Linked DNA regions of Homo sapiens. The protein of the gene in region 3 purifies or fractionates together with the protein of the main gene of each other region. This does not show direct contact. Each region holds a gene or a part of one and is shown on either strand. Other genes may lie near its edges. The genes, in order: LZTFL1, USO1 and TSNAXIP1.

Region 1 (3,657 bases), on a different chromosome or scaffold from region 3:
ATTTATTTTTCATAGGATTTTATAAAGGCCCAAGACTTAAGTAACTTAGAAAACACTGTCGCTGCCTTAAAGAGTGAGTTTCAGAAGACACTTAATGACAAGACAGAAAACCAGAAGTCACTGGAGGAGAATCTGGCGACAGCCAAGCACGATCTACTCAGGGTTCAGGAGCAGCTGCACATGGCTGAAAAGGTCAGAAGACCATGTTTAAGGGATTTGTCTGTTAATGCATGATTAATGCACACAGTATAGAGGAATACATGTGGCTAAGATAAACGTTGGACAACTGCAAATTCAGATTATTTTTTCTCAAGGTATTAGCCAATATGTTCTAAAGATTAATCATTTCCGGGCACTGATATTCTTCCATCTTTGGTACTAAAATATCTGTGATAATAAGACATCTCCTCTCCCTCTATGGTGTAGTGAAATGCTCCTCTGTAGGTGGCTTGAATCCTGCCCTACATCCCACCATGTTGCTCTTCTGCTCCTTCTTCCCACAGCCTGCAGAGGGATGAGGGACTGTTTTTTTTAAGGACTTCTATACTTTTGTCATAATTTATATAAAATATGTAGAGAGCTAGATTCTTCACTTTGGGGATTAGACTCTTAAGAATATGGGAGTTGAGGCCGGGTGCAGTGGCTTGTGCCTGTAATCCCAGCACTTTGGGAGGCCAAGATGGCAGGATTGCTTGAGCCCAGGAGTTCAAGACCAGCCTGGCCAACATAGCAAGACCCCCATCTCTATAAAAAAATTAAAAATTTTTTCATATAAAAAATGGGAAAAAAGAATATGGGAGCTAAAATTTAACTAAATTAAAAATCATTTTGCTAAAATACACTACTATGGGACTTGGGAAAAAAGTGTGCTTATTTTACAGGAAAATTAGTTTAATATTTCAAATAGATTTATCATATCCAGGGCTTGAGTTATTTACCAACACTGTACTTGGGAAAATGTTACTATTTTATGGCTTCTCATTTGAAAGAATATATTTTTAAAGTTTGGATAGTCTTAGTTTTATATAAATGTGTCCTTTAAGGAAATTAGAAAATCATTAGCAAAATACTAGTAAAATTCAAGCAAAAAAAACTACATATTTTTATCGCATTTGTTATCTCTTTCCTTAACTATTTTTTTAGTAATGGGCTGACATTTTTTACTAAGCAGGAATTAGAAAAGAAATTTCAGCAAACAGCAGCTTATCGAAACATGAAAGAGATTCTTACCAAGAAGAATGACCAAATCAAAGATCTGAGGAAAAGACTGGCACAGTAAGCCACACTGATCCCGCCTTTGGATTTCTCTCTCTGGATTGATGTTTGTTCTCTGTTAAATCTAAGCTTGTTCCAGAGAGGTCAAGCCGGTGGTAGTTGCTGGATCATTTAGTCCAGAAGCCTTCATTTGAGGAAAGTGGAGGAGCTCTGGCCTGACCTTATCTATAATGCCCACCAGGGCTTCTTTTTAGGTTCATCTAGGCCTTTAGACTCACACAGGCCTACAGTAAGCTGCTCTTGGCAATGGATTCACTTAGCAGGATGTCAGACAGGAAACACAGCAAGCTCGCAGGGCAGCATTAGGTAGTTCTCTTCTCCTTGGTGGTATACTCTAAGCAGTCCAAGAACTGGTCTTACTGTTCCCCTAAATGACAGTTTAAGTTGGAGAGAATGAGATTCATGCAGATGGGTGTCATAGCCAGCTTGGCTTAGAAGTCCGTGTTCTACATAGGATTAGTATCTCTCTTAGCAGTCACATGATACCCAGTTAAGGGTATGTCCAGTTAAAAGAACTCATCGCACAGGGGGAAACCTAAAGTGGTGGCTCCCACCATGTATTTATAGTTCATTCATAGTCCTCCAGGTCCAGATGTGGTCATCAGATGTTTTGCCTGGAAACTGAGTTGACATTTTACCTTTATCAGAGTTCCAGGGGAGCAGAGCTAGAAAGGGAATTCAAGGTGAGATTTGTCCTTAGAGAAGTAGATTTGCTAGCCCTTTACTCATATAGTCGTATCAACTGTTCTTGTCAACATGATGATTGAGGTAATTATATGAAGTTATCACAGGTCTAAATGCCAAATATACAGACTTGGAGCCTTAGCAGTGATCTGGCCTATCCTCCTACCTGATGTAAAAATCCCCTCTGAGTCACCATCAAAACAAAGTTGAATGTGTCCAACTTCTACCGTAACAGTAATTTGAAGTGAGAAATATAGTGCCACTGCTTCAAGTAAACTTATTTGGTAATAACAACAACAAAAGGTATCCTGACATTGTGTTCTTAATTTATATCTCCAGATATGAACCTGAAGATTAAAACTGAAGATTTCCTCTGGAAGCTACCACATGCAAACATACAAGCAGTCTCACCTCAGGCATGTATTTTGAAAAGCATTTTGTCATATCCCCTCTCCTTATTTTTCTAATATTTAGACTTTGAATATTTAGAACTAGAGTTCCTATTTTCAGCTAGTTGAAAACAGAGAAAACCTAGTGATTCTGTCTGGTCATCCCACACACCTCTCTACTGAGTGCTCCAGAGTCTTAGCTCACATGCACTGAGAATTCTTTACAGCAAAGAAGAGATTTTTAGAGTGGGAAGAAGAGGCTTATCCTTCTGCATTAGTATAAAGAGTCTGTATTTTTAATAAATGTTAAATAAGCTAACAATGTTTGTACTTATGCATTCCCCATGGGTAAAAATAAATAATAGCATTGTTAAAGATAGTTATTACCAAAAAAAGAGAGTTATTACAAATAAATATGTCTCTTTATTTTTAAAAATGAAATCTTAATTCATTTACTCTATTTGATGATAAACTATAAATTCATTGAAAATGTGAATTCTATTATGGGTAGCCTTTTTACCAATTATAAGGAAAATTTACAGCAGTGAACATGAACATTCACTTAGCTTCCTCAGTCTCTCCATCTTAAAGATCATTTATCAGAGGAGGTTCAGCATTTTTTGCAGCATAACTTTTCATGAGTCTGTATTACTAATGGATAAGTCAAATCCATCCTGCACTTCTACAGTTTAGAAAGTATCTGGACTCAGAATAAATGTAATATTTATACTTGTTTCCAGAATGTTATTTTACATTTTATGTTCAATAAGAACACTTTTTAAAAGACGTATATTCAACATAAAATCAGCTATCAGACTTCAGATTAGACTTTATTTATGTGGGTCTATAATAATTGTATTTTCAAGAGGTTTTCACTATATTTGTATTGGCCTGGTTTTCTCAGACGATTTTGGACAAATCATTAGAAACTGGGCATCATATCCACAGTTATGTAAGGCAGTGATATACTATAAGGATAAACAAAGTCAAGTCCATAAAGCAATAATCCCTCAGAAGGAAAGTCCTTACTTTTCACATATTAATATTTAGTAATTTTTCCTGCTTCTAAAAGTGAGAGTATCACACCCTAAATGAACACTGTCTACTAAGAGACATCATTCCATTTCCACAAATGAAGATTTTATTCCAAGAAACGAGTTTACTGATTGGAGCATAGGGCTTGTTGTTATTTTTATTCAAGCTTTTAGTAATAGCCTTGAATTTATTATTTTTCTTATAGGCTTTTTGTTAAAATAGTGAAGGAACAAATGTTAAAGGGTAAGATAATTTCCCTGCAAAAGGACACAGA
Region 2 (3,657 bases), on a different chromosome or scaffold from region 3:
CATTAAAAAATCAAACACAAGTCTCTTTGTAGACAAATCCAATGAATCCATTTCCATTATAGTTACCTTAAGTCAGCCAAGTAATATACTGCTTCATTTATTCTCCATGCTCTTTCCCATAAATGAACTATGCTTTTCAAAAGGACATCGTTTTAAGCAAGGGGTCATAATGAAACATGTCTACCAAATAACCTATCACAAATGCTAGCATCTCAAAATCTAACACCACAAAAGTTTTTCTGTAATCCCAGCACTTTGGGAAGCTGACAGGAGGATTGTTTGAGGCCAGGAGTTCAAGACCAGCCTGGGCAACATATTGTGAGCCTGTCTCTTTAAAAAAAAAAAAAAGTTTTCAAATTAATGGTGAATAACTTTTGACACAAAAAATGTTTATGGCACTTCTGCTTGAGGTATAAAAATAATAAGCATAACTTTACTATACCTACAACAGACAAAAAGCAGAGTACAAAGCAGTAATATTAATAATAAAAGGTAAATACATAAAAAGAAAGAGGAACAGTATTTGGTATCAACAAATGTATATAAGGAATTCTAATATTCTTTCCTAATCAGATTCAAGAGTAATGTTTTTAATGAAATAAAGGAAAATAAAGAAAAAGGCATCAGAATTATATATCCTCTTGGACAATTTTTCCCTAAGTATGCTTCTCAAAATAATAGATAACAAAGTTCCCTAGAGGAAAAAAAAAGGTCTGGTCAGATAAATTTGGCAAACAGCTTACTTTTTATCTACATTTTAAAAATATCTGAAACTATAACACAGTGCCTGCTTACAAAACCTTGCATAAATACTAGAGGTTTTTTCTTTGTTAGTGGTCGTTGCACACACTTCTTTGCTGACAAAATTTTTTTCATGGACATCTATTCAAATTTTTTGAAGCATACCTTGGTAATGCTACGGCATGTATAATTTAAATGATTCTAACTTTTAAATGAACCCTATATAATCTACAAAATTAACCTTCCAAAAAGCCATGTAGTATTCAATAGGCCCTACTTAAAAAGAGTGCTTCGATATAGAAATGACCAAAACACAAATCATTATTACAGTTCTCTCCGACATTGTTATTGCAAAACAGGCCAAGAGAGAAAACACATTCCAGTTATGACATTGACCTGGTTATTAATGTAGAATACATCAACCCAAATAGGAATTTCAGACTACACATTTATAGTAACATGGTATAAAATGTGCTTGACTAAACGAAAACTATGTCTAAATTTAAGTCCACACTCTTTAATAACAATTTTTATTAAAAGAAAATATGGCTGTGTTTATATTGTTAGCCCTTCTGCTTTCTGAGACAGCTGATGAAAGTTTGATCTGGAAAGAGACCCCATAACAATGTTCTAATTCTGTATGCTTTTTCTGGACATTAGCAACTTTCATGTCTCGGGGTCCAACTTGAGAACAGAAAATGCCTCTATGATTCATCATCAAATGTAGTTAACACTTGCTTGGAATTTTCAAGAAACTAGCTTTAAAAAAGGTACAAGTTGGGGGCTGGGCGCAGTGGCTCACGCCTATAATCCTAGCACTTTGAGAGGCCGAGGCGGGCAGACTGCCTGAGCTCAGGAGTTCAAGACCAGCCTGGGCATCACAGTGCAACCCTGTCTCTACTAAAATACAAAAAAATTAGCCTGGCGTGGTGGCGTGCACCTGTAGTCCCAGCTGCTCGGGAGACTGAGCCAGGAGAACTGCTTGAACCCAGGAGGCGGAGGCTGCAGTGAGCCGAGATTACGTCACTGCACTCCAGCCTGGGCGACAGAGCGAGACTTCGTACCCCACCCCCCTACCCAAAAAAAAGGTGCTAGATAGAAGGCAGATATAACACTAAGCACACATAAGCTTACATTCAAAAGCATGAAGTCCCTGGTGGTCTAGTGGTTAGGGAAAAAGAGAAAACTAAAAAACAAAAGCATGAGTAGGATTTGTACTATAATAATATGCACCCAGCAAACTGTGTCAAGGCTAAAGAGGCTTCAATCACCAGAAATCAGTGTCAAGTAAAAAAGAGAAATGAAATGTAAAAGTACCCGACTCTGGGGCCAGGTGCCGTGGCTCACACCTGTAATTCCAGCACTTTGGGAGGCCAAGGCAGGCGGATCACGAAGTCAGGAGATCGAGACCATCCTGGTTAACACGGTGAAACCCCATCTCCACTAAAAATACAAAAATTAGCCGGTGTGGTGGCAGACACCTGTAGTCCCAGCTACTTGGGAGGCTGAGGCAGAAGAATGGCGTGAACCCGGGAGGGGGAGCTTGCAGTGAGCCAAGATTGCGCCACTGCACTCCAGCCTGGGCCACAGAGCGAGACTCTGTCTCAAAACAAAACAAAACAAAAACAAAAACAAAAGTACATGACTCTAAAACAGAAAAAGTTTAATGTGGATGAAATTCTGAATTTAAAATATCCAGTACTTTATAGAATTGACTATCCTATGATAAAATATTTACTACTTGACAGGTTCTCAAGAACATCTTTCTTTTTGAGACAGTCTCGCTCTCTCGCCCAGGCTGGAATGCAGTGGCACAATCTTAACCACTCAGTGGTTGCTCACTGCCAACCACCGCCTCGATTCTCCTGCCTCAGCCTCCTGAGTAGCTGAGATTATAGGCATGTGCCACCATGCCCAGCTAATTTTTGTATTTTTAGTAGAGACAGGGTTTCACCATAAAAATGTGCTTGACTCCAGAAAGGAGTTTGGCCAGGCTGGTCTCAAACTCCTGACCTCAAGTGCTCCATCTGCCTTGGCCTCCCAAAGTGCTGGGATTATAGGCGTGAGCCCCCGGCCTGAAGAACATCTTAATATCAGTCCAAAGTTACTCTTAACTAAGAGTATGAAAAGCTAGATACTATACAATCAATCACATAACTCTCACACATTTAAAAGATACTTAAATTCAATAAGAAAAAAAAAAACAAGAAAGCAGTCAAAGCATTTAGTAAATATGAAAAAATCCCTTAAGTAAAAAGCTTGACACAATGAACTTCATTTGAGAACTTCAGTTTCTAGTCTTTAAAAAGTGTTTTAGTACCTAGTAACGTAAGTTGCTATAATTACAGATCTGTGATTTCTTTCAAATAAAACTATAATTAATTCATTTCACAAGTATTTACTGGGCATCTACTACTGTGGAAAAACAAAGATTAAAATACATTATGAACCCTGCCCTAAAGACACTTTAAGAGTCTAGAAGGAATAAGATATATGCACACTGTAGTTAAAATGTAAAGGTAGCTCAGAAAGGAAAAAGCATCTGAAACGTGCTGGGGGAAAGTACAGATTAGGGGAGGCGCTGATGATGAATTTAAATAACAGGTCTAATTCAGACAAAGAAAAGAGCCCTTCCATTGGAAAAAAGATGTTAGAAAAAGCAAGAAAGATGGAAAGCCACCATGAAAAAAATTTAATTTTGCAGAAATGGAAAAAACTACAAAATAATAAATGATAATATAGAAGCTAGGGGTTCCAAGCTCTGGTAACTCAAATATCCTGGCCAGACTAAATCATCAATTAAAACATCTAAAATTGTATATACACTCCACTGATGCTCTATAAATACTTCTAAATTAGTAATCCATGACCCCTTTTACCTGTTGTACTTCCTGGTGGAACGAAATAGTGAAACAA
Region 3 (2,497 bases):
GTTCTGACTCTGGCCCAAGCCCCACTCCTGGGGCCTCCCCTACCAGACCAGGGAAGAAGTCTTTCTCCCGCAGCAGCCCCGAACCAATCTCTTCCAGGAGCACGTCCACCAGCTGGTCGCTGTTCTTGCCCTCAGCCAGCATCTGCCAGCGCTCTGGGCCCCCAGCCACCACATCTGCATGTGGGGAGAGGGAGCTGGAGTCTGGGCCCACATGTAAGCAGGACCTGGGGCCCTGCCGGCTGCCCTCACCTTTGCACTTGGTCCAGTCAGGCCGCGGCGTGGAAGTGCGCTGGATCTCCTGCAGCTCAGAGAAGAATTGGTCCCGTTCCTTCAGCGTGCTCATGTGCAGCTGCATGAGGATCTCATGCTCCTTGCGAACCTCCTCGTAGCTGGCTCTCAGGGTGTCCAGCTGTGGGCAAGGACATTGGCCCTGGCCCCCCACCTGTGAGACCCCGTCCTACCCTCCTGGCCCTGCCTGCCTGCCAGCACCTGCTCCTGAAGATCCTTGTTGGTCTTCTCCTGCATTTCAAAGTCCCTCCTGGGGACCACATCTCCAAAGTTGGCCTTCATGTTGTTGAGTTCCATCTGCGTGCGGGTCAGGTCTTGCCGGGTCATCTTAAGAGCCAGGGTTAACTTCACAGGGTCCTCCCCCCAGATGCCTGCCAGGGGAAGGGGCCCACCAGCCCGTGTCACCGTGGCTTTCTCAGGGGTTGCCTGAAGCCCTCTGCCCTTCCTGTTTGGGGTTCCCTGGTTCTTGCCCACAGCACTACCAGCCTAGGGTTTCAGGCTAAAGTCTAGAAGCCCAGGAAACTGAGTACCAGGCCTGTCCAGCCCACTGGGAGCCTAGGCTGCCTCAGCTACCAACTGTGTTCCTACAATTCTCAGTTCAACTCAGAAGATACACAGCCCTGCGGGAGGCAGGGACATCTCCCCTCTGAATGGTTATGGAATGAGCAGGTCTTAGGAATGCTGAATGAATGGGGCTTAGGGGTGAGACCAGAGTCTTCCAGCGTCTCAGAGAAGAGAGAAACCCGATTCCCAATTCAGGCTTACCTGGCGACTGGGCTAATGACATGTCCTCCCGCTGGTACCGCAGCTCATTCAGGTCTGCGATGAGGATCTTACAGGCATCTCGCTCACTGAGGTAGTGCAGGTACTCCTCAGCCAAGTTCTTCCTCAGTTTGGTCACCTGGCAAGAAGGTGGCTGTGTGGTCAGGGGCTGCCCCTGGACCCCTGTATGCAGCTGGTCACCCCAGGGAGTGGGCTGGGTTCTGGGGGGCCCCATCAGGGACTGTGAACAGGAAAGGTGAAAGAAGAAGGAGATTGGCCATTTCTGAGAATTCGGCAAGGTGCCAATGTTTCCCCCTGTGGGGAAAGTACTGAGCCTAGCAGCAGGGCAGAGGGTGGAGTTAGCAAGGCTCTGGGGGAAGGTGGTGGCTCAGTGTGTCACTCTCCGTAGAAAGGCAGAGCAGGGTAGGGGGTCACCCTTGTCGTGGAGTTGGCAGGAATTCGGGGACTTGGTCATCATCACACCACTTCCATTCACCTCGCTCTGCAATGAAATCTTCTCCTCATTCTTTTTGTCGATGAGTTTTAGCAAGTTCATCTTCTCTTTCTTGAGCAGGGAGATTTCATATTTCTCCTCAGCTCTCATGGCCAGGATCCTCTCATTGCAGTCCTCATTCACAGTGACAAGCTTGGCCTTCAGGGGCTCCAGAGCCCGAATCTTCTCCCTTTGGTGGGCTAAGCAGAGACAGGTGGGAGAGCTGCTTTGGGGCCATGGAGAACAAACAGCCAGAAGACACCCTAAGGTCATGGGTGAGTGGCTATGTCGCTTGCAAACCCCAAGAATCTCTGCATGCCTTGTTCAAAGCCATGGTCCCTGTTTCAGGCCTTCCTGCACTTGATTTTAAACAAAGGGCAGAGTTCAGATGAAGACCGGGGTCTCTCCTATGTCCTTTCCCCTACAGCCTTAAGTCCTGCAGCTGCACCATGCCCTGCACCTCCTGAGCCTGGCAGGGGAGCCTGCTGACTCCCAGAGGTGCTGACTCTCTCCTGGGGTTCACTCCATTTTCAACAGGGACTGCCCCCCTGTGCTTCTCAATGACAGGTGTTGTCAGGTGCTCTGGGGTGCCCTATCATGGAACAGTCTGTGCAGAATGGCTGAGGGGCCTTGGTGACCTCAAGGCCCAGTTGGTAGCTGCCCCAGCCCTGCTGTGGAGCACCAGAAGGTCGAATAGGATCTTCTCCACCCCTTCCAGGCTGGGACAAGGAGGGGAGCTGCATTCTTTTTTTTTTTTTTTTTTTGCGATGGAGTCTTGTTCTTTTGCCCAGGCTGGAGTGCGGTGGTGTGATCTCAACTCACTGCAACCTCCACCTCCTAGGTTCAAGCAATTCTCCTGCCTCAGTCTCCCAAGTAGCTGGGATTACAGGTGTGTGCCACCATGCGCAGCTAATTTTTTTGTGTTTTTACTAGAGACAGGGTTTCACCATGTTG

Evidence for each region.
Region 1: the proteins of TSNAXIP1 (region 3) and LZTFL1 purify together in Homo sapiens (affinity purification with mass spectrometry; one large-scale study listed by BioGRID and IntAct). This does not show direct contact.
Region 2: the proteins of TSNAXIP1 (region 3) and USO1 purify together in Homo sapiens (affinity purification with mass spectrometry; one large-scale study listed by BioGRID and IntAct). This does not show direct contact.

The regions. Positions count from the first base shown.
Region 1 is NC_000003.12:45,824,974-45,828,630, reverse strand, and holds part of LZTFL1 (leucine zipper transcription factor-like protein 1), read left to right. Parts: intron 1-15; coding exon 16-192; intron 193-1,171; coding exon 1,172-1,275; intron 1,276-2,298; coding exon 2,299-2,317; 3' UTR 2,318-3,657. UniProt on the Homo sapiens protein: Regulates ciliary localization of the BBSome complex. Together with the BBSome complex, controls SMO ciliary trafficking and contributes to the sonic hedgehog (SHH) pathway regulation. May play a role in neurite outgrowth. May have tumor suppressor function.
Region 2 is NC_000004.12:75,727,507-75,731,163, reverse strand, and holds part of USO1 (general vesicular transport factor p115), read right to left. Parts: intron 1-3,657. UniProt on the Homo sapiens protein: General vesicular transport factor required for intercisternal transport in the Golgi stack; it is required for transcytotic fusion and/or subsequent binding of the vesicles to the target membrane.
Region 3 is NC_000016.10:67,823,829-67,826,325, reverse strand, and holds part of TSNAXIP1 (translin-associated factor X-interacting protein 1), read right to left. Parts: intron 1,744-2,497; coding exon 1,547-1,743; intron 1,190-1,546; coding exon 1,054-1,189; intron 660-1,053; coding exon 490-659; exon of another isoform or gene 431-489; coding exon of another isoform or gene 410-430; coding exon 250-409; coding exon of another isoform or gene 175-249; coding exon 44-174; intron 1-43. UniProt on the Homo sapiens protein: Possible role in spermatogenesis.